Regions from separate parts of the Homo sapiens genome. Here regions 2 and 3 are each linked to region 1. Evidence: fine-mapped expression QTL. A gene starts in region 1. Each other region holds a variant in brackets. All regions are shown on one strand. Distances are between the middles of the regions. Region 1 holds the start of CA5B (carbonic anhydrase 5B). Region 2 overlaps VEGFD (vascular endothelial growth factor D). Region 3 overlaps CA5B (carbonic anhydrase 5B).

Region 1 (8,183 bases):
GAAACCTCGTCTAGAGATTTTTGTCTAAAAATACAAAAATGAGCCAGGCGTGGTGGCGGGCGCCTGTACTCGGGAGGCTGAGGCAGAGAATTGCTTGAACCCAGGAGGCAGAGGTTGCAGTGAGCTGAGATCGTGCCACTGCACTCCAGCCTGGGCGACACAGCAAGACACTGTCTCAAAAAAAAACAAACAAACAAAATCCCCCACAAACCTGTCATGAGAAACAGGGAAGGGAAAGATGATGGCAGGTCATACCTCTAATCAAATGGGATTTTTTTTTTTTTTTTTTTTTGAGACAGGGTCTCCGGGTCAGGTGCAGAGGCTCACGCCTGTAATCCCAGCACTTTAGGAGGCCGAGGAGGGTGGATCACTTGATGGCAGGAGTCCCAGACCAGCCTGGCCAACATAGCAAAACCCCATCTCCACTAAAAGTACAAAAATTAGCCGTGCATGGTGGTGCAAGCCTATAAGCCCAGCTACTCGGGAGGCTGAGGCAGGAGAATCACTTGAACCCAGGAGGCGGAGGTTGCAGTGAGCCGAGATTGTGCCGCTGCACTCCAGCCTAGGTGACAGGGCGAGACTCCGTCTCAAAAAAAAAAGAAAAAGAAAAACAGAACGAGATGGGGTCTCTGTCACCCACGCTGGAGTGCAGTGGCACGATCTTGGCTCACTGTACCCTCCGCCTCCCACGCTCAAGTGATTATCCCACCTCAGCCTCCCAAGTAGCTGGGACCACAGGCGTACCACCACGTCCAGCTAATTTTTGTATTTTTGGTAGAGACGGGGTTTCGCCATGTTGTCCAGGCTGGTCTCGAACTCCTGGCCTCAAACGATCCACCCGCCTCAGCCTCCCAAAGTGCTGGGATTACAGGCGTACAGGCGTGAGCCATGGCGCCCAGCCCTCTAATCATATTGGATTTAAGGTGTCAATGGGATAGCTGAGAGGAAAGGTCTAGGAGAGAGTTGGCAACACAGCTCTGGTGCTCAGGAGCAGTCAGGAAGCTACAGATAGAAAGAGAATCCCCTCCTCCCAGCAGTTACAGGTATATCAAGGGAGACTCACAAAAAGGAGCCATGAAGGATGCTGAGACTGAGAACGGTCAAAGGCAATCAAGGAAGGCGCAGAGCTTGGAAGATCCAGGTGAGGAGGTTCCAGGAAAATCCAAGTAAACAGAAATTCAATTTAGCTAATGCTTGATTGCAATACCTATAACAATACATGAGGTTATTTTTGTTCAGGCCTAAGGTCTATCCTCTCTGTTAAATTAGAAGTTATAGTTTTTTAAGAGTTGGTTATTTAAACTTACTCACTGCATTCATAAAACCCAAGTTTGTGAAACCAAAAATAATGTTTAACCAGCAAACACAGCACATATCAACTAATACCATACATTACTGTATTTCAGGGAGAATCTGTCCGTACATAAGTTTGTCCATAAAGATGGGTCCCTGGGCTCGATGGACTACAGGGGAGCTTTCTGTGTTATATACTCTTTGCCATCACTGATGATTTATGTATATCCTTGGATTTTGCTAACCTGCCCCTTAGCTGTTTTCCAGACTTAGAAATGCGTGGAAACAAAGATTTTGAAAGCCCTCAATGAGTCATTCATAAATCTTGTATTTATTAAATGACAAGCAGCTTGAACTCTGCCTGATTAAGCCATTCATATGTAGGCAAAACAGACAGAAAAAAAAGAATGTACTCTGACTAAAGGTTACAATTACATTGGAAAAAAATTCCTTCATTTTCAACAGATGGACCCTTCCTTTGATCACCACCTGATTTCAAAAGGCAACAAGCCTTTTTGCAATTCCCTGAAATCTAAATTAGAGATTATGCTGCGATATCTTGACTGAGAAAGCTCAGCTTCCCCCTCTCACCCACTTCTTCCCTGGGAGCATGATCCCAATGTGTGGTAGCCAAAGGTTTCAGAATATGTTTCTAATAACTGCTCTTTGTGCTGCAATTAATTGCCCAGTGCCACCAATCAGATGAAATGCATTTTCCCCTTTCCGTCAAATTTCCCAAATATTCATATTCATTCATTCACTCACAATTCACTCAACCTTTACTGCGTTCCAATTGTGAGTGGTTGCAGCTTTTTGCCTGGCTCCAGGGAGAAGAGGGCAGGTGTGTACAGGCACAGAGAACGGTGCCCTTGCTGCTTTTGGCATTTCAGTGAATTCCAACCCTGATGCTGAGGTTAAAAAAAAAAAAAAACCTCAGTAAAAAATATTCCTAGAAAGCTTTACGGTTTTCCACTTCCAACATACCCAAGAAGAGTGGCCACTCCTGAGAGATGTGCAGGGACAATTCAAGGGTATGCTCTGGGGCAGCTTCTCTCACCACAGAAATAGCACTACTTGTCTCCATACTCTAGCAAGACTTTTAAACAGCAGAGTGATGGCCAGATTATCAGTAAAGGAAGAATGGGAAGCAGAAAGCAACGCGGTTTTCAGTGGCTAGGAGAGAACAAGTTCTTTTCAAACTAAGTTGTACACATCAACTCCCCTTATCTCTCAAACTTTCCCAGCGAAAATACACAGGAGGGAAGGGCACTGACATCAATATTAACCAATTGCCACAAGCCTCGGGGCAGAAGCATTTAACATTGAATGCCACAAGAATCACGAAAACCAACAAGGTTTGTATTTGGAGGTTCCTCTCCTTCAGCTTTAGGGCTGAGCACAAAACAAAAAGGCCAGAAGAAAGAACTGCAGGGTGAAGAAAGCTCAGATTTGCCCGCATGGCACAGTTGTGATGCTGATACCCTGTCTTGGGGGTGAGTGGCTGTGAGTCTCTCCACAGCCCCTAGCATAGTGGGTGGTGCGGATACAATGCAGATCTGAGGGAGTTCCAGTTTACTGAGCCTCGGTTTCTGGAACCGCAACCTCAGATTTGTCGCCCTTACCCCCGTCTCTAGCTATTTCACAGAAGGCTGGACTTTCTGGAGTTATTTGGATTCAACCAACCTTGGCAACCCTACCTACCAAGGAACTGCTCTCCCGCGCCCCCACCCCCTTTTCTCTGGAACAGCTGTTATCGCGTCCTGTGCAAAGAACCTTAAAGGATGACAGCCGTTTGGTAACTCCCATAGTGGAGGAAGAGGGCTGGGGTGGGGGAGTTCGACACCCCATTAGGCCCCACTCAGTACTCCCGGGCGCCCTGCCGGGACCCAGACAATACTCGCAGGATCAACAGCTCTCCTAGCTCCGGAACCCGGTGCGCCAGAGCGGAGAGTCGTGGGAAGAATCACGGCCCTGTCTGGATCGGCCTGTCCCTGGTCGCCCCCCACTCCTCTCGGCCACCCGTCCTTACCTGAGCGTCTCTCCAGATCACGAACCTAGCCGCTCGCTCGCCTACGGGGATCCGCAGCCTGCACGTCCGGCCATCGAAGCTACGCCCCCTCGTGCCCTGTTACGCCCCACATACCAGGGCCACGCCCCTCAATGGAGGCCACGCCCCCACCTGGCAGATCCACGCCCCACTACGTCCGTACTTATTGCCCCGGTCACGCCCAACCAAACTGTGCCAGTCTCTGCCCTCCACCCTGGCCACACCCCTTTAGCTACAGCCACGCCCCTCTCGCCCGGGCCACGCCCCCATTCACCCCTGCTCCCTCCTAGCCCCGCCTCTGCGCTCCCCCTGGGCTCTTCCCTCTAGCCTGGGCCACGCCTCTGAGCCCTGCTCTGGCCCCGCCCCCGCCGGACCAATCCTCCCTCCTCCTGCTCGCCGCTGGCCGCATTAGTGGATTGAAACTAGACCTGGGGCTTCAGAGCCTTATCTAAAAAGTGACTTTCCCTCGGTTCCTCCCATCTCCAAACACCACGACTTTATGTGCTGGGAACAGGTGACTCAGTAGGGAAACAAACACTGAACGTGTCCTTTCCCGCTAGTTTTCATGTCCAATTTACCCGAGTTTCTTTGAGCCAGTTTTTATGTCCTCTGAACTCGAACTGTGGACCCGTGTTCCTTCCAGCCCAATTTTCATATCCTCTAAAGCAGAACTGTGGATGTGTTCCTTCTAGCCTCTTAGCCGACCTTAAATACTAGGCAGATGAGTGGAAAAAACAGAATTCCTCTACTTCCTGATGTCTCCTTCAGATGGGCTTTCCTAAGCACCCAGTGCCCCGTTGCTGCTGAGGGCGTGTGAAGACATCACCCCCACTTTGTGCTTTGAGATTACTCTGCTATCCTTCTTCCCTCAATTTACAACTCTGGGTCCACGTGAAAAATATGAAGAAGCTATAACCAGCTTTCTTCCCCTGTGTACATAAATCTCTGACTCATTCATGCAAATTTCATTTATTGAGTACATGCTCCCCTGACAAACAAGACAAGCCTCAAGAAGCTTACAGTCTGAAGTTGCCCCAACTTGGGTTTGGATGAGAAAATTGGGGAAGATGTGGCAAAAGGTTAATAGGTGGAAAAGGAGTTGGTAATCTCAGGTCATTAGTAGGAATATTTGGGGGTAGTAAACATAGGAAGCCACTTTTATAGTATTTAGTACATTTCTTTACACAATAAATTATCAAAAAATCTTCACTGAATATCTACTCTTCCACATGTATAGAAATATATAATTTCCCCCCTTTGTAGAAGTAAAATTTGCTACTTATATTGCTTCATATGCCAACAATAAAGATTTTACTATCACACAGTTCTTTTTTCTTCTCCTCCCTTGCATTTCTGGCTTGAAGACAGTGAGAATATTCAAAATGTTGGGCTAGAAGGAACACAGAGAAAAGAACAACTTTCAACAGAACACTTTCATTATGCTCGCCCTGACCCTGAGAACTCTGCCTCATTTATAAAATGTTTCAACTGTCAGTCATTTTTTGCCTGAAAAATGAATTCACAGAAATTGGTCCAAATACAGTCTATATAAATTACTGAGTTTATTTTTATACAAGTAGTTCTACTTCACCTTCTTCCACAAATGATTTGAGGCAGCGTCCTAAAATATAGACATTAGTAGATTTAAAAATAGGGGAAGGAACCAGTGAAAGGAGAGCTTAATGGAAGGAGAATGATGTGGCCAATGATAAGATTAACATTTAAGTTTGCACTCCATCAGATCCAGAACAGTTGTCAGAAGTAGGCCAGAAATTTGACCCTAACTAAGCTGTTGAATAGCCATAGAAAAGAGGAAATAGCAATCATTTTTAGGTTTTTACTGTTCATAAGATAAAAACTGGCTTTTTTTCTTTTCCCTTTTTTTTTTTTTTTTTTTTGAGACAGAGTTTTGCACTTGTTGCCCAGGCTGGAGTGCAATGGCGCGATCTCAGCTCACTGCAACCTTCGGCCCTCAGGTTCAAGCGATTCTCCTGCCTCAGCCTCCTGAGTAGCTGGAATTACAGGCATGCACCATCATGCCCGGCTAATTTTGTATTTTTAGTAGAGATGGGGTTTCTCCATGTTGGTCAGGCTGGTCTTGAACTCCCGACCTCAGGTGATCCACCCGCCTCGGCCTCCCAAAGTGCTGGGATTACAGGTGTGAGCCACTGCACCCGGCCTTTTTTTTTTTTTTTTTTTTTTTAATGGAATTTCACTCTTGTTGCCCAGGCTGGAGTGCAATGGCATGATCTCGGCTCACTGCAACCTCTGCCTCCCGGGTTCAAGTGATTCTCCTGCCTCAGCCTCCCAAATAGCTGGGATTACAGGCGCCCGCCACCATGCCCAGCTAATTTTTGTATTTTTAGTAGAGACGGGGTTTCACCATGCTGGCCAGGCTGGTCTCGAACTCCTGGCCTCAGGTGATCCACTTGCCTCAGCCTCCCAAAGTGCTGGGATTACAGGCGGGAGCCACCGTGCCCGGCTGTTTTGTTTTTATAGAAGCAGTTTTTCTTGAATTTTAGTCCTGAGAGAAATACAGTTTCCTCATAAAGATGATGTAGTGAGCCTAGTGGGAACTATGTGTCATAAGGAGTGACACCCAAATCCCCTCAATGGAAACTGTTGGCACAATCACAAAGCACAGTGCATTAAATCAATTCTATGAATTGGCCAGGCATAGTGGCTCAGGCCTGTAATCCCAGTAGTTTGGGAGGCTGAGGCAGGAGGATTGCATGAGCCCACGAGTTAGAGACCGGCCTGGACAACATGGTGAAGCCCCATCTCTACAAAATTAGCTGAGTGTGGTGATGTATGCTTGTAGTCCCAGCTACTTGGGAGGCTGAAGTGAGAGGATCATCTGAGCCTAGGGAGGCTGAGGCTGCAGTGAGCCGTGATCACACCACGGCATTACAGCCTGGGCAACAGACTGAGACCCTGTATCAAAAAAAAAAAAAATTCCATGAACCATCAACATATTTCTGTTCACTTGAATACACAAGCCCTCAATGGTCTGGCTTAATCCAGGGTAGCATTTAGATCATCTTTCCCCAGGATGGCAAATAGGTTTCAACTCACATGTTAACTCTGAACTATTTGTAGTAGCTGCCTGAATAACTATGTTGAGAAGTTTGGGGGCTTTGTCCAGGCTCAGAAAGAAAAAGTTCTGTACTCAGTTAACAATGCTGTGGGTGCAGGATAGGTAAGTGGCTGCATGCAATAACCTACCTGGTACCTCTGCTTTGTAGAAATAGAGGTCTTGCATGCAGAACTTTGTGCAGTCACTCAAAATCAACAATTCTCGTGGCCAGGCGCAGCAGCTCATGCCTGTAATCCCAGCACTTTGGGAGGCTGAGGCGGGCAGATCACCTGAGGTCAGGAGTTTGAGACCAGCCTGACCAACCTGGAGAAACCCCATCTCTACGAAAAATAGAAGATTATCCAGGCATGGTGGCACATGCCTGTAATCCCAGCTACTAGGGAGGCTGAGGCAGGAGAATTGCTTGAACCTGGGAGGCAGAGGTTGCAGTGAGCCGAGATTGCACCATTGCACTCCCGGCTGGGCAACAACAGCGAAACTCCGTCTCAAAAATAAATAAATAAATAAATAATTTCTCACCACAGGGTTTTTGATAAATACCAGAGTGTAGAGAGTTCCAGGTCCCTTTCTCACTCTGATCCACCTATACTGGTCTTCCCATGTTCATTCCTGTCTCTGAACATTTTCTTTTGTTGTTCCCATTGTTTGGACCACTCTTTACTCGGATCTTTACATGGCTGGAGTTTTCTCATTATTCAGTACTTAGCTAAAATGTCACCTCTTTAGATATGTTTTTCCTGACAACCATATCTGAAGTTGTATCCAGAGCCTCTCAATCTGCACTGTGCCCAGAGATCACCCGAAGATCATGTTACAATGCAGACTCTGATGCAGTGGTTCCGCGATGTGACTTGAGATTCTAGATTTCAAGCATGCTGCCAGGAGATGCAATCCTGAGGTTCTATAAGACACTCTGAGGCTGGCACGGTGGCTCATGCCTATAATCCCAGCACTTTGGGAGACCGAGGCAGGCAGATCACCTGAGGTCAGGAGTTCGAGACTGGCCTGGCCAACATGGCGAAACACTGTCTCTACTAAAAATACAAAAATTAGCTAGGCGCGGTGGTGGGCACCTGTAATCTCAGCTACTCAGGAAGATGAGGCAGGAGAATCACTTGAACCCAGGAGGCGGAGGTTGCAGTGAGCCGAGATCACGCCATTGCACTCCAGCCTGGGTGAGAGCGAGACTTCGTCTCAAAACAAAACAAAACAAAACAAAACAAAAAGACACTTTGAGTAACAGCTTCACCTCTCCATCTCTATTACCTATTTTATTTTCTTCATAGTGTTTCTCAGTATTTGAAATTATTTGATTATTTGTTGGTTGGTTGTTTACTATAATGTAAATTCCCTAAGAGCAGGGACTCTGACCAATTTGCCCAACTTTGTACTCCTGGCAGTTAACACAGTACCTGGGGCATCAGCAAATACCCTTTAAATATTGCTAAATGAATAATTTTATGATTCATTAATTCCTTTATCTGTTCAGTGACTGCTTAGTTATATGCCAGGAACTAAACTATAAATGATAGAAGGCAGTGCTACTCAAGTGCTAGCCTATGAACTGCTAGGTACTCTGGTTCAAGCTGAGATAAGCTTGAACTAGAATGTAAAATCTGATATGTCATTAAACACAGTGGTTATTTAGGATGTCATATTTTTTCTTTTTTCTTTTTTTTTTTTTTTTTGAGACAGAGTTTCACTCTTGTTGCCCAGGCTGGTATGCAATGGCTGATCTCGGCTCAC
Region 2 (8,183 bases), 390 kb after region 1:
ATCTAATTCTTTCTCCATGTGACTCATGTTCTAAAAGTGTTAGAAAATTTTTGTGGGGTTGGCCGGGAATGGTGGCTCATGCCTGTAATCCTAGCACTTTGGGAGGCCGAGATGGGAGGATCACTTGAGGTTGGGAGTTTGAAAACCAGCCGGGCCGGCCGGGCGCGGTGGCTCACGCCTGTAGTCCCAGCACTTTGGGAGGCCGAGGCGGGCGGATCACGAGGTCAGGAGATTGAGACCATCCTGGCTAAAACGGTGAAACCCCGTCTCTACTAAAAATACAAAAAAAAAATTAGCCGGGCGTAGTGGCGGGCGCCTGTAGTCCCAGCTACTTGGGAGGCTGAGGCAGGAGAATGGCGTGAACCCGGGAGGCGGAGCTTGCAGTGAGCCGAGATCCCGCCACTGCACTCCAGCCTGGGCAACAGAGCGAGACTCCGTCTCAAAAAAAGAAAAAAAAAAAAAAGAAAACCAGCCGGGCCAACATGGCGAAATCCCATCTCTACTACTACTAAAAAAAAAAAAAAAAAAAAAAAAAAAAAAAAAAAAATAGCTGGGCATGGTGATGTGCGCCTGTAGTCCCAGCTACTCAGGAGGCTGAGGCATGAGAATCTCTTGAACCTGGGAGGCAGAGGTTGCAGTGAGCCGAGGTCATGCCACCGCACTCGGGCCTGGATGACAGAGTGAGACTCTGCCTCCAAAAAAAGAAAGAAAGAAAGAAAGAGAGAAAGAGAAAAAGAAAAGAAAAGAAAGAGAGAGAGAGAGAAAGAAAGAAAGAAAAGAAAAGAAAGAGAGAGAAAGAAAGAAAGAAAAGAAAGAAAAAGAAAGGAAGGAAGGAAGGATAGAAAGAAAGAAAGAGAAAGAAAGTAAGTTACTGTGGGAAGGGCAATATACTTAGAGCTTAAAGGCTCTAGCTGAGGATTTCCTGGCACAAAGCCTCTGAGACAGTTTTGTACGGAGGAGGTTTGTAGGCAGGCACAAGGCATTAAAGGGTAAAGAGAGAGGCAGCAGACCACAGCGCAGTTGCTAAGAGGCATCAGCCTAAGCCAATGGGAAGTTGAAGCTGGGAACCCCTGCGGGGGTAAGTCTTAAATCTAGGTGAAGAGGCTGAGCCCTGTAGACCGTTCATTGGCTGCCTTGGAGAGGGGATGTAGCCTTAGGAGAGGCAGCTTATTTCTGCTGGAGATAATTCTTGGGAAGGCACTCAGCCAGTACACGTGTGTAGAGGGTGGTAAGAAGAATAGGGAAGAAGAGAAGTGCTGTTCTAAGCAGCGGGTATATGAGCACTCAGGGCTGGAGGTGAGAGAACATACTGGAAGAAGTTCAGCATGGTGGGGATATAATGGGTGGGGACATAATGGGGAAGGGGCTGGTTAGATGTGAGAGAAGAAGCTGGACAGGCTCACAGGGGCAAAGCAGAAGGACCTTGTAATTCTTGCATGGGAGCTTGGATGTGATACTAAGGACAAAGGGAAACCACACAACTGGCTAAAGCAGGAGAGTGACAGTACCCATTAGAATTTTAACAAAATCATATCAGCAACAGTGTAGAAGAGGATGTGTTGACTCGGGGCAGGGAAGGAGGCAGGAAACCTTTTGGGAAGTTGTAGCAATGATGTAAGTGAGAGGCGCAGGGTGGACTGGATCACAATTGTTTCTCATTCTCATCTCCTATAAGTCCCCAATGTGGATCAAGTTCACATTCATTTCTCCAGTGGCCCCATCAAATTGATGGGATTTACTGAGCTTACTGCTCACTATACTTTTTTTCCGCACATGTGACTGTTAAGCCAACTGCCTTTTCTACAGTGACTTCTCTTGCCCAGATGAGCACATTTAGGTTAGTGAATCCAAGTCTAATTTAATTGAGTCTTGTTAGAGTCAGGTCATTGCTCTAAATTGTTAAAACAAACGATATACACAAACACACACACACACAAAAGAATAAATTGAGGAGGTCCCAATTCTGTATTTTAAAATACTTAATATATCCCTTCCTTCTTGAAGAGAGCTACAATTTCAAGAATTTATTTTGAAAAAATTCTATCAGTTTATTGATAAAAATGGTAAAAGGAACAAAGCTGAGAACAGAACATATCATCAGACTCTCTAGGGACGGAAATCAATACATAATACTTCAAGATATCACCCTCAGCTACTTGCTGTTCCACCACCAGTTCTCTTGCATCCAGTTTTTGTTTCTTTTAACTTGGCTATAAGGATGTGAGCACAGACTCTGCCAAACAGCCTGCTGAAGTTCTGCAAACACCTTGTGGATTGTGTTTCCCTGAACAACCCTGTCCAACAATGGCCTTGGGCCTGTCTGAAGTATTCTTAGTGAACTTCTGCTGCCACCTAGTGATCATTGCGAATTTTTAAAAAGCCTCTTTATCCTTTAACAAGTTACTCTTGTCTTACCCCAAAGCGGCATCTGCCTCACTGGCATATGACTTACAGAGCTCACATTTTCCCTCTCCACAAAGTTCAAAATGGAGACTTCTCAGATTTAGCCTTCCAGCACCCATTCTCAAACGTCGTGCATTACAGAAAAGTTTAAACTATAAAGTTGAACCGCACGAGATTCTCATTTTGATATGTCATTAAAGTCAGATATTGGCAAGAACATATGGTTTAACCCAATGGCTTGGAATGCTGGATGGGATTCCCAGAAGCTCCATACATCGGCCTGCTTCAGGACCCTTTTATTACACCAAATAAACCCAACAAACATCCATCGAGTGCCTATTTTATATCAGAACAATGAGACCTGCTCCTTCTCCTTCAGGACATTTTACTTAATGGGGGAAACATACAAGTAAACAGACAAATGTAATCAGTGCAAGAAAGAATCGGACAGCAATATGCACAGGATAAGGACACTTAGCTAAACCTGCAGACATTGGGAAAGATGTCAGGGAAAAGGGATGGCAGAAGGAAAGACAAGGCCAAAGGCATGGGACTGGGAGGCACTGGAATATCAGGGCAACAGAAAGTGCTGTCATTTGGTATAAATGGAACACACAGGATATATGAAAGCAAGAAACAGAAGATGAGTCTGTGAGGTTACTATGATCCAGTTCATGGAGGGCCTTGTATGTCCTGGTGGGAAAATTGGTTTTTATTGTGGGAAGGGAACCTTTTAATGCATTCAAAGCAGTGGAATGAAGTGATTTGGTTTGCATTTGTTAATCATGTGAAGAAGAATAGGTTGGAGGGATAAAACTTGTGGTGGTGAGATGAGTGACAGAGCGACAGCCATCTACAAAAGAAACACAAGGTACAGACTGAATTGTGGGAGTGGTAGTGGGGATGGAAAATAAAGAACAAATTTAGAGAGGCAGAACTGAGTGGACATGATGCTCAGACTTACCAGAGCAGGTGAGTCAAGAATGATGTCACCATTCCCTAAATGAGGCAAACTGGGAGAGAAGCAGATTTGGGGAGAAAACTACTAAACATGTACGTCCCTCCAAAACCTTCAAGAATGCTAAAGGGACAGAGTCAAGTTCTTCCAAAGTTTCTGTCTCTTCCATTTATTTTGCAATGAATTTCAACTTGTTAATCAGAAATG[G/A]ATTTGGAGTAGTAGCTATTCAATTGTTTTATACACCTTCTAGAAGAAATATTTGTCAGATGAGTATGTCAAAAACTTCTCAGACCCTCCCCTTTACTTGAATGTATCTTCCAGCAGATGTTGGTGGAATCAAAGTTCATTATTACTCCTATATCTTTTATACTAGTGTTATGATCTGCAGTGAGGACATGCATTGCTATTGCTACGCCTGGCCTGGAATGTCTGAGGTGTATTTCTACAACACCAATTATTTTGTGTGTCTCTCCTTTTAATCTCCACCAAAAAATGGAGACAGCTAGATTCATAACCCTTAGACATCCTATATTTTATTACTAATACTTGGTTGTGGAAGTTTGCATTCTAAACAAGTCATCAACATAAAAATCTCTAAAAATATTTTATGAAAAATATTCAGCTTATGATATTTTAAAAATCACAAACCTAAGAAAACACACAAACCTGTGTTTGTATTGTGAAATCAGAGGTTAATCTTCCTCACCCTGTGAAAAAATTAGGGGCATAAATCTATAGGAAGGAGATTGGGTGAATCCAAGTTACTTACGGATGACATAAAAGATACAATCAACTTTGGTGATCCAATTGCCACACTACAACTATCTGACCAACACGTTTCTGTTTCTCTTTAGACCACTCTCATCTCCAGGAACCAGCTCTCTGTGGGCCACACATGATGTTTGACGAAGATCGTTGCGAGTGTGTCTGTAAAACACCATGTCCCAAAGATCTAATCCAGCACCCCAAAAACTGCAGTTGCTTTGAGTGCAAAGAAAGTCTGGAGACCTGCTGCCAGAAGCACAAGCTATTTCACCCAGACACCTGCAGGTAAATGCCTTGAGTTGTCTTGCCTTTACTCATGACATTTAACGTAGATGCCATTTTAATTTGGTGGGATTCCTTAGTAAGCTAATTTTTCCCCTTGGTGCCTGAGTCCCTTTTGGATAATAGAACAGAGGTTTAGCAGCTAAGGAATAAGCAAGAGTATACCGAGTCATGATTAATCATGAAAATAAGAAAATCAATCCTGCCTGTTATTATGTGTGTAGAGCTTTTTTTTTTTAGACGGAGTCTCGCTCTGTCTCCAGGCTGGAGTGCAGTGGCGTGATCTGGGCTCACTGCAACCTCCGTCTCTCTGGTTCAAGGGAGTCTCCTGCCTCAGCCTCCCAAGTAGCTGGGATTACAGGCACGTGCCACCACACCCAGCTAATTTTTGTATTTCAGTAGAGACGGGGTTTCACCATGTTGGCCAGGATAGTCTTGATCTCCTGACCTCATGATCCACCCGTCTCGGCCTCCCAAAGTGCTGGGATTACAGGCATGAGCCACCGCGCCCACCCGGGGTTTAGAGCTCTTAAACAACAATGAAATTGGTAAAATTTAAGCAGTTATTAGGATATTGCTTAATAATAATATTTTAGGAAGGGGAGGTTTCAGATCATCAACCTGTTTAGTTCAATCTCTCATTGTTTATGTCTATATATGTTTGTTTTTTTCTTTAATGGAGGGAATATCATTGGATTTATATAGCAAGTAATTTATTCATGAATAGAACACTTGGAGGTTACTGATTCACTTCAGTAGATTTTGAATCCATGTGGGATAACCATGCAGGATTTTATACTGACATTTTAAATACATGTCTGGAAAACTTAATCAAATCAGAGCAGAGTTATTCTTTTGAATCCAGTCATTGATTCTGAATTCTCATCTTTATTTTCTTTTGCAACAGCTGTGAGGACAGATGCCCCTTTCATACCAGACCATGTGCAAGTGGCAAAACAGCATGTGCAAAGCATTGCCGCTTTCCAAAGGAGAAAAGGGCTGCCCAGGGGCCCCACAGCCGAAAGAATCCTTGATTCAGCGTTCCAAGTTCCCCATCCCTGTCATTTTTAACAGCATGCTGCTTTGCCAAGTTGCTGTCACTGTTTTTTTCCCAGGTGTTAAAAAAAAAATCCATTTTACACAGCACCACAGTGAATCCAGACCAACCTTCCATTCACACCAGCTAAGGAGTCCCTGGTTCATTGATGGATGTCTTCTAGCTGCAGATGCCTCTGCGCACCAAGGAATGGAGAGGAGGGGACCCATGTAATCCTTTTGTTTAGTTTTGTTTTTGTTTTTTGGTGAATGAGAAAGGTGTGCTGGTCATGGAATGGCAGGTGTCATATGACTGATTACTCAGAGCAGATGAGGAAAACTGTAGTCTCTGAGTCCTTTGCTAATCGCAACTCTTGTGAATTATTCTGATTCTTTTTTATGCAGAATTTGATTCGTATGATCAGTACTGACTTTCTGATTACTGTCCAGCTTATAGTCTTCCAGTTTAATGAACTACCATCTGATGTTTCATATTTAAGTGTATTTAAAGAAAATAAACACCATTATTCAAGCCATATAATTTTATGTTATTTAATATGCTTCCACTCTATATTTATGCTAAAGAAAAAGTGTTTTAAAGAAAGAAAGGAATTTCAAAGTGGAAGGTGCAGGAAGAGACACAAACACTGGACCTCAGTTTTGGGAAACCAAGGGAATAGCTCTCAGAAAGGTTAAGATCCTAAATGAGGCTAAGCAAATGTGACCCAAGAATCCACTGCGAATCACTCTGTGCCTTGAGATTAAATTGAACTTGACCTGATCCCCATCCCATGGCAGAGGGGAACCCATCCATGCCCTTGACCTCTTTGAGAGTTTGCATTTCTTCTAGCCACCTCTGGCTCCAAGTTTCTGCACTTACTCAAATCTCAGTGTCATGGACACCCCAACTCTCATGGCAACACAGTTCTTCTCTCTGTTCTACAGCTATCACTTTTTGTTTTGTTTTGTTTTGTTTTTTGTTTTGTTTTTTTTTTAGACGGAGTCTCACTCTGTCGCCAGGCTGGAGTGCAGTGGTGCGATCTTGGCTCACTGCAACCTCTGCCTCCCAGGTTCAAGTGATTCTCCTGCCTCAGCCTCCCGAGTAGCTGGGTCTACAGATGCACACCACCACGCCCAGCTAATTTTTGTATTTTTAGTAGAGACGGGGTTTCACCGTGTTGGCCAGGATGGTCTCAAGCTCTTGACCTTGTGATCCACCCTCCTCAGCCTCCCAAAGTGCTAGGATTACAGGCATGAGCCAGCGCGCCCGGCCACATAAAGCCTTTTTCCTCAAAGTACTCCTACATCTAATTTGTTAATGATGTAGACTTTATTGAAATTTTGCCATAACAGAGAGAATTTAGCAGCATTAGCAGATTTAAGTTATGTATTAAATAACTTAAAATTAATCCCTGCATAGTATCTTGCATAGATAGATATGTATATAGACACACACAACCCATTATGGTACTTACAACACATTTGTGTAAATAGTAGTGTTCCTGTTTATCTCCCCACCATACTGTGACCTCATTATGATTGGAAACGGTGTCCTGATCAAATTTGTGTAACCCAACTTTCTCAGGCCAGAACACCCTGGAACAGTACAATCAAAAGGAGAAAGACAATGATAAACAATGGAATAGTAAACAAATGTAGCCCCATGGTAGTGGCATTGTTTGATCCTGGCCCAAATCCCTACCCTTCCTCTGCCAGGGTTTCTAAGCAGTTCCTGAATTCTCCCTTCATTCACTGAAATTCTCTGAAGCCTGGGGCTCCAGGTCCTTTGATGCTTCCCTGGCTTTAACTCTCAGTCCCTGCCCTGGGGACATGAGCTAACCTTCACCTGGCCTTGGAACCACTCCCCACTGTGCTGCCATTGTCATTGCTCTTGTCATTTACTGGTGCCAACCCAGTCACTCCTCTTTTGCCACTGTTCTTTTTGCCCTCACTTTATGACCTTGATGTCAACAGGCTTCTTCCTTCTCATTTTACTGTATTTTTAATCAGGCTTCTGAAAATGCTTGCACATAACTTAGTTTTTTAAAACATACTTGGCATTCGACTCTTTGCTTTGCCTTTTCGTTCAGTTTCTACCACTCCCAACTTCTCCATGATATTTGCTTAAATTCCTTTGAGATCTGGGGCAGAAGACAATTCAAGGATACCACACAATTAAAGGAGTTACTTTGCTTATCCTCGACTGGTAAAAAGAGGGGATGTATCACTAAGGAGAAAAGACCTGAATTTAAGGACAGACTCTGCCACCTAAACACATTGTAAGCCTGAACAATGTCATCGAGCCTCAGTTTTCTCATCTGTCAAATGTAAATGATAATCTCATTTCCCTAAATCTCAGAATTGATAATTTCATTAGAGTTACGATTAGTGAAAAAAAAAAATTGAACAATACAATGTACCTTATAGCTCAAAGGAATTATTCTGAAGGAAAAAAGCAAGACTGAGCAAATCTCAGAAGCTTGGGACCTCTGAGATGTTCTTGGCTTATACTGGATCCTTGGATCTGTCCTAAAACCAACTCAAACCATGTTTTGGCTCGAAATGCCTCTGGCTTCATAATTGCCATTTAGATGGAGATTATCATAGGGAATTCTAAGCTAAGCCAAAACTCAATGTGATCTGGCTTTGTGCTTCTAAAACCCCTCCCTCTTCTTCCTCCTTAATTCCCAATTACCATCAAGATCTGCACTTGGATCCCTGACGCTGGGTCAGGATGGGT
Region 3 (8,183 bases), 37 kb before region 1:
TTTTTTTATCTTTATCTATATCTGGTGTGGTTTGGCCCTGTGTCCCTACCCAAATCTCACGTCGAATTGTAATCCCCCTGTGTCAGGGGAGGGGATCATGAGGGTGGATTTCCTCCTTACTGTTCTCGTGATAGTGAAAGAGTTCTCATGAGATCTGACGGTTTAAAAGTGTGTGGCACTTCCCCCATCTCTCTCTCTCTCTTCTGCCACCATGTGAAGAAGGTCCTTGCTTCCCTTTTGCCTTCTGCCATGATTTTAAGTTTCCTGAGGCCTCCCAGTCATGCTTCCTGTTAAGCCTGTGGAACTATGAGTCAATTAAACCTCCTTTCTTCATAAATTACCCAGTTTCAGGTAGTTCTTTATAGGAGTGTGAAAATGGACTAATACAATATATATCCTATTGGTTCTGTTTCTCTGGAGAACGCTAATATACTTCCCTTGATTGATCTCTTTATCCATGTGCCAGGAACACGCTATTTAATTATTGAGGCTTTATAACTTTGTGAGTCTAATTATCCCGTATTTTTCTAGAATTTTCCCTGGCTATTTATGTGTTTGTCTTTATTCATGAGTTTAGAAATAGCATATCAATTTAAAAATCCTATTGGCATATTTATTGGGAATACATAAATTTATGGTGAATAAATAATTCATGGAGAATGACAACTTAGGTTGTCATTTATGACAAAAAAAGGTGTTTTTATGTCTTTTGATCCTATAATGTGTTAACTTTATTAATTCAAGCCTTCTTTTGTATCCTCCAGGAACATTTTAAGTTTTCTTATTAGCTTTCCTTGTTAAAATTATTCCGAAGTATTTTATATTTTTGTTTCCATTATAAATAGGAGCCTTTCTTACATTATATCTTTATATCATATCTTTTAGCTGATTGTGATTTATATATGTCAAATGTATTGATTTCTAGAAATTGATATTGTATTCCACTGATTACCAAATTATCTCTGATTTTTGTAGTCGTTTTTTATTGTTTCTCTAATTTATTTTTTATTTTCCAGTCTAACTGTACTGGCTACTTCCAGAATGTAATTTAATATAAAACTTAATACGGTAACAATCCTTTCCATTCAAAACCTACTATTTGCTTTTGAACTGAGATCAATCTCTTTTATCAAGATAGGGAAGTCTCTATTCAGCTCTGTTTTATTAAAAATTTTCAAAAACTGAATGGTGATTTTTACAAATGTCTTTTTAACTTCCCTGGAAATGATAATATGATTTTTCTATTTAGATCCACTGATAGAATGAATTACATTAATATCATTCTTAACATGAACCATACTTGTATTACTGGAGTAAAAGCTACTTGGACAAAGTGTATATTTCTTCTGATGTACTGCTGGATTCTGTTTCTAATATTTTCTTTTTAGCTTTTTTTTCTTTTATATTCTTCAGAGGGGGGTCCAATCTTTGGTGAGTGTTGGTATCAGTTATGCTGGCTTCATAAAAAGAATTTGGAAGCTTTTTTTCTTATGAAAATGCTTTATAATCAATAAAAATCCCATAAAACAAGTATGAGTAAATATTATTGTAGTTTATATTATACATTATACAGGATTTTGAGTGTTTGCATAGTAAATACTACTTAGACTTAGTTTCTAAGGGAAAAATAGATCCCAAATTCAAAAAATGGACTTACATTAAAGTTTCTGGACAAACATTGTTGAATTCTGTATTTATCCTGAGATTCCATAGCAGAATTCCCTTAAGGATTTTAAACAGTTTTGAACACATTCATTTCCAGCCTTCACTCTTCCCTTTAAAAGGGTCTTGATTTTGTATAGAGTTTAATATTTATATATAAAATACACAAGGCATAAGAAGACATATGTAATTGTCAAATATAAATGTAAAAAACTTATGTTCTTCTGTGTTTTAACTCTTCTCTCTAGTTAATTTGAAACATCCCCAAATTCATGTCCAAACTGAGACAAGACGTTGGTACACTTCAATAAAAATGTATAAGCATTACAAGATGTTAAAACTGATGCCACAGTCTGAGCCCAGCCTTGTTTTACATGGGCAGACAAGGATTTCCTTAGATTGAAATTATGGAGAGAACATACCTGATCATGATCAACCTCTACTGGTTGCTTCTTAATGATCCAGGTGACAGACTCGGAGAGGGGTGGGGTAGTCAGAGACCCTGAGTAGGTCCAGTAATCTGGGCAGGTAGGCATCAGGCAGGAAGGGTCAAATGACCCAAATTCCACAAGGGCGTCCTGGCCAAGAGAAGAGATAACCGAGTCATTATTTAGTAGTGAAAACCACTCAGGAATTGGACGCCGAGGTGACGGTTCTCAGGGAGTATCTGGAGATCAGCAGTGGTCCAGAGCAGCTCCAGGCCTTTCTGGGCAGCTACCTGAAGAATCGCTGCTTAGGATGGTATCATGCCTGGCTTTGTTTCTGGAATTAACTGTGCATTTTTTATATTCCCCTGTGGGAAAACGGCCAAAACCACTTGATCTCTCAATTCTAGTGAGGTTCCAGCAGGTAGTCTCCTCTGAGTTTTGTTGAGAGGTTTTAGACAGCGGCCAGTGCATAAAGAAAGAGGCTTTGCATTTTCTTTTCTTTTTTCTTTTTTTTTTTTTTTTTTTGAGACAGAGTCTCGCTCTGTCGCCCAGGCTAGAGTGCAGTGGTGCAATCTCGGCTCACTGCAAGCTCCGCCTCCCGGGTTCACGCCATTCTCCTGCCTCAGCCTCCCAAGTAGCTGGGACTACAGGCGCCCGCCACCATGCCCGGCGAATTTTTTGTATTTTTTAGGAGAGATGGGGTTTCACTGTGTTAGCCAGGACAGTCTCGATCTCCTGACCTCGTGATCCGCCAGCCTCGGCCTCCCAAAGTGCTGTGATTACAGGCGTGAGCCACTGCGCCCGGTTGGAGGCTTTGCATTTTCGAGAGGCTAACTGAGAATTGTCCTTTTAAGAAGAAATGCAGCTCAGGAGGAGCCAGAAACCTGAACTAAAAGGAAAGAGAGGGAAAAACAGGAAAATGGAGATGAGAGGAGAGGGAAAGAGGTAGGGACCAGAAGGTCAGAGTGGGGGATGGGGGGAGATAATATACGGGCTTCCAGAGAGGAAAGGAGAGGGAAAGAGGTGGGGACCAGAGGGATACAGTGGGGGATGAGAGGGAGAAGAAGAGAATATATGGGCCTCCAGAGAGCAGCCCTTTGAGATTCTGAATATTGAAGAATTAATATTGGGGGACTGGACAAAGGCATCCGACCTGAAGGATGTGGATTACTGTTCTTTCTAGCTGGACAAGGCAAGTTTCTGTAGAACTGC[G/T]CTCTGCTCCCTGCCTGTGGGATGGCAGCTACAGAACAGAAGGCTGCTCTGGGTGTGTTCACAAGGACTTAGAAGGAGCCGGTGTCAGGAACAGAGGAGGGGACAGCAATATGTTCCTGAGTCCCCAAGTCCTCAGCGGCACTGCAGCAAAACCAGAAAGCTCACTGCCTACCCACAGAATGATGACTTCTGTCCCCTGGAATCATAAATGGCAAGTTTTCTTCTAAGGCTGAATACAGTTCACCTAATTAAACTTCCCAATTCAAAGTGCCTTGGTAATGTCTCCGCTCTGAGATTGAAACATAAAAGTATATTTCAAGTAATTAAGGAAAACAAATAGTACCTTATGCTTAATTGACGGCAAAGTATCCACTAATTTCTGTAGCTCCTTATGATGTTTGCCTAGCTAAAGAACAACAAGTAAGAAAATATTACAAACAATGGACATCTCACTGTAGAAACTGTAACAGAATGTGAATTAAAATTAACTACCTGGTGATTACATAAAAACAAACTGCATGACTGAAATTACACTTAAACTTGTAATTTATAATTTTATAAACATTACTGAATTAAATTAGAGAACAAATCAGCAGGCTGTTTGCTGACAAGGTCAGCATGCCTGCAGTGAAAGGTGCCCCCTGCTTCATTTAAGTTCTTAAATTGAAATTAAAATTAAATAAAATGAAAAATGGTTCCAGAACTGCAGTAGACACATTTCAAGTGCTCAATTGCCACATGTGGCTTGTGACCACTCTATTGGGCTGTGCATTTTTATATCATTTAAAATATATATATTTTTTTGGTGGTGGGGGGGATGGAGTCTCGCTCTGTTGCCCAGGCTGGAGTGCAGTGGCACAATCTTGGCTTACTGCAGCCTCCACCTCCCAGGCTCAAGCAAGCGATCCTCCTGCCTCAGCCTCCCGAGTAGCTAGGATTACAGGTGCGCACCACTATGCCTGGCTAATTTTTGTATTTTTAGTAGAAACAGGGTTTCCCCATGGAAGCCAGGCTGGTCTCGAACTCCTGACCTCAAGTGATCTGCCTGCCTCGGCCTCCCAAAGTGCTGGGATTACAGGCGTGAGCCACCATGCCTGGCCCTAAAATATATTCTTAACAATCCTGTACTTCAAGCACTATTTATCTTACCAATGTATGGATCCCAACATTCTTAAAGTAAATAACAATATTATACTGTTCTATCTTTTCATCCTAGAATACAACACGTCATTTAAAGTTGGTGAGATATTTTACCTTTAAAAATACTCCTATCACAGCCAAACCATTTTCTTCCAGTGCTGCATCCTCAAAGTTTTCAAATCTGACTGCGTTCCAATGCACTAAGTGCAGCTGAAACACCATGAAAAGAGGGTTAACACGTGACTATACAGAATCTCTCCAGAATAAACCCACAGCCTCAGTCAACCTATGACATTTAAACATGTTTCCTCACCCAAAGTAAAGCCACCAAGAAAACCATATGACAATCCAAAATGAGATAGAAACAAAGATCAGGAAGAAATTTAGGCAAGAGCAGCAATTAATATTATTTTAGAATAAAGGGATTTATTTGGGGAGAAAAATAGAAAATTCATATAACAAAGTGACACTTCAGTGAGCAATCAACATTTGTCCAGTCCCATCTTGATTTGAATGAAATACCAATATTCGAAATCCACTTGCATCTACAGGAGAGAAGATGTTTATATTGAGAGAAATAGATCCTCCATATGGAAATTATGCAGGAGTTAAAGACAAATTTCTTCTTCAAGGAATAACCATTTAAAATGTGCTTTTAGGCTGGGTGTGGTGGCTCACACCTGTAATCTCAGCATTTTGGGAGGTCAAGGTGGGAGAATCACTTGAATCCAGCAGTATGAGACCAGCCTGGACGACATAGTGAAACCTTGTCTCTACAAAAAAATTTAAAAATTAGCAGGGCAGGCCGGGCGCGGTGGCTCACGCCTGTAATCCCAGCACTTTGGGAGGCCGAGGTGGGTGGATCACAAGGTCAGGAGATCGAGACCATCCTGGCTAACACGGTGAAACTCCATCTCTACTAAAAATACAAAAAATTAGCTGGGCGCAGTGGTGGGCGCTTGTAGTCCCAGCTACTTGGGGGGCTGAGACAGGAGAATGGTGTGAACCCGGGAGGCAGAGCTTGCAGTGAGCCAAGATCACGCCACTGCACTCCAGCCTGGGCGACAGAGCAAAACTCTGTCCCAAAAAAAAAAAAAAAAAAAAAAAAATTAGCAGGGCATGGTGATGTGCGCCTGTTGTCTTGAGGTGGGAGGATTGCTTAAGGTCGAGGCTGCAGTGAACCGTGATTGTGCCACTGCACTCCAGCCTGGGTGACAGAGTGAGACCCTGTCTCACAAAGCAAAATAAAATGAAACAAATATAAAAAATATAAAATAAATTTTTAAATGGGCTTTTTTTACATAACATTTACAATTGAATTAGGAAAAAAGTTGTAAGAAGAAATTCTATTTCCTTAAAATCTCCCTTTATTTCCCTACAAATCATTCCTCATTCATCAGTTATGAGTGCATTATCACCCAGCCTCCCAAGTGAGACACCACAAAGTCGTGGTTAACCTTGCCTTCTCCTATCCTGAAGAGAACCCTACCTTCAAGTCCTGTTGCTTTAATTTCAGAAATGCTTGATAAATCTTGCCCTTTTTCTCTATTTCTATTGCCACAGCCTTCATTTAGGCTCCCACCACCGCAAACTTGCATTAATTCAACCTGTGGCTCCACAATGTTCCCTGGGTTATTACTTTGGGCTACTATTTGAGTCCACTTTCGAATTCCAGAAGAATTCAGTTTCAGGATCTTAAGGTTCATTTCAACTATATTATTTGAGATGAGAGAAGTTAACATTTTTACATGTCTTAGCTGAGAATGATCAAAACTGCCTGAGAAAGCTATTTAGCATTTATAGGAATCACCTGATTCTAATAATGTCTTACAACTAAAAGTTCAGAATTATCCCCACTTCTCTACAGTTGTCACTGTTCCTGACCTTCTCAACATACCTCTGCTGGGAAGCATTTGCTGTCCACGGTGTGCTCAGAACCCCAGGCATCGATGGCCCCCCAGTGAAAATGGAACTGCTTCAATCGGTAGTTGTGTTCCAGGGGTCCTCCCTTGATCACTAAAATGGCACATCCAACAATTCAGGGAAGAGTTATTTGTGCAGTGGAGGAATGTGGGTGAAAGGCCAAATCTCCAATGGACCCTCCATGTGAACTGTCTTAAATGGATTACACTGAATTATATACAAGTGATTATAAATTTGATTTTCATGAAGTCAATGCACGTATAAGGACAAGACCAAATAACATCAAGATTTAACTACATAACAAGCTACAAACAATTGTTAAAGGCCAACTCTTGACTTAATTTTATATCCTATATTATTGTGTCCAGTTTTCTTTTGTGTGCAATAAAATGCAAATTTCTCTCAGCACATTTATCCAACATGACTTTATAATACTGAAATATGGGGATAAAAGGATCTTTCTTTTTTTATGCACAGACACTTTGCTTTTCAAGTTTTGAAGATACTAGTGTTGCTTTCCCTTTCATTGAAATGGAATAGGACATTTGCAAGTCAAAAATGATCACCTGGGAGATGTTGGTCAAAAGGTACAAAGTTTCAGTTAGGAAGAATATGTTTTCAAGATTTATTGCACAGCATGGTGACCATAGTTGATAATAATCTATTGCACATTTCAAAATTACTAAAAGAGTAACAGTAGATTTTCTCGCTACAAAAAAAAAAATGGTAAGCATGTGAGGTGATGGATATTTTCATTGCTTGATATAATCATTCCACAATGCATACATATATCAAAAGATTACATTGTACCTGGTAAATGTATACAAATATGTCAATTGAAAAAACACACTGGCCGGGCCTGGTGGCTCACACCTGTAATCCCAACACTTTGGGAGGCTGAAGCGGGTGGCTCATCTGAGGTCAGGAATTTGAGATCAGCCTGGCCAACATGGTGAAACCCCATGTCTACTAAAAATTAAAAAAAAAAAAAAAAATTAGCTGGGCGTGGTGGCCCATGCCTGTAGTCCCAGCTACTCAGGTGGCTGAGGCACAAGAATCACTTGAACCCAGGAGGCGGAGGTTGCGGTGAGCTGAGATCGTGCCACTGCACTCCAGCCTGAGTGACAGACCGAGACTCTGTCGCAAACACACACACACACACACAAATTATTACCAATATATTATAGGCAAAATATTGACAAGTGTTTTTTTTTTTTTGAAACAGGGTCTTAGTCTGTCGCCCAAGCTGGAGTGCAGTGGCACAATGTCGGCTCACTGCAACCTCTGCCTCCTGGGCTCAAGCCATCCTCCTACCTCAGTCTCCTGAGTAGTTGGGACTACAGACGTGCATCACCATGCCAGGCTTTTTTTTTTTTTTTTTTTTGTAGAGATGAGGTTTTGTCATGTTGCTCAGGCTTGTCTTGAACTCCTGAGCTCAAGAGATCCACCCATCTCAGCCTCCCAAAGTGCTGGGATTACAGGCAGTTGAGCCACTGCGGCTGGCCCAGATAAGATGTTTTTGGCCGGGCACGGTGGCTCATGCCTGTAATCCTAGCACTTTGGGAGGCTGAGGCGGGCGGATCATGAGGTCAGGAGATCAAGACCATCCTGGCTAACATGGTGAAACCCCGTCTCTGCTAAAAATAAAAAAAAATTAGCTGGGCATGGTGGCGGGTGCCTGTAGTCCCAGCTCCTCGGGAGGCTGACGCAGGAGAATGGTGTGAACCTGGGAGATGGAGCTTGCAGTGAGCCAAGATCACGCCACTGCACTCCAGCCTGGGCAACAGAGAAAGACTCTTTCTAAAAAATAAAAATAAA

Evidence for each region.
Region 2: its variant is fine-mapped to the expression of CA5B in spleen (GTEx, PIP 0.93).
Region 3: its variant is fine-mapped to the expression of CA5B in whole blood (TOPMed, PIP above 0.99). The same link has a PIP of 0.9 or more in blood mononuclear cells.

Annotation. Positions count from the first base shown.
Region 1 is chrX:15,733,492-15,741,674 of GRCh38, reverse strand. It overlaps CA5B (carbonic anhydrase 5B), which reads right to left and starts at 3,405. Exons shown (of 8, transcript NM_007220.4): 1 at 3,323-3,405. All of the region lies in intron 4 of CA5BP1-CA5B (CA5BP1-CA5B readthrough), which reads right to left. RefSeq lists a silencer at 3,441-3,740.
Region 2 is chrX:15,343,392-15,351,574 of GRCh38, reverse strand. It overlaps VEGFD (vascular endothelial growth factor D), which reads left to right. Exons shown (of 7, transcript NM_004469.5): 6 at 4,216-4,411; 7 at 5,316-5,979. The coding sequence ends at 5,442. It overlaps PIR-FIGF (PIR-FIGF readthrough), which reads left to right. Exons shown (of 15, transcript NR_037859.2): 14 at 4,216-4,411; 15 at 5,316-5,984. Among named protein-coding and RNA genes, the nearest start is that of PIGA, 12 kb to the right of the region's middle. The variant G/A (reference allele first, on the strand shown) is at 3,569.
Region 3 is chrX:15,770,771-15,778,953 of GRCh38, reverse strand. It overlaps CA5B (carbonic anhydrase 5B), which reads right to left. Exons shown (of 8, transcript NM_007220.4): 4 at 6,340-6,458; 5 at 4,557-4,652; 6 at 3,646-3,708; 7 at 2,085-2,240. It overlaps CA5BP1-CA5B (CA5BP1-CA5B readthrough), which reads right to left. Exons shown (of 12, transcript NR_160544.1): 8 at 6,340-6,458; 9 at 4,557-4,652; 10 at 3,646-3,708; 11 at 2,085-2,240. Among named protein-coding and RNA genes, the nearest start is that of INE2, 13 kb to the left of the region's middle. The variant G/T (reference allele first, on the strand shown) is at 3,303.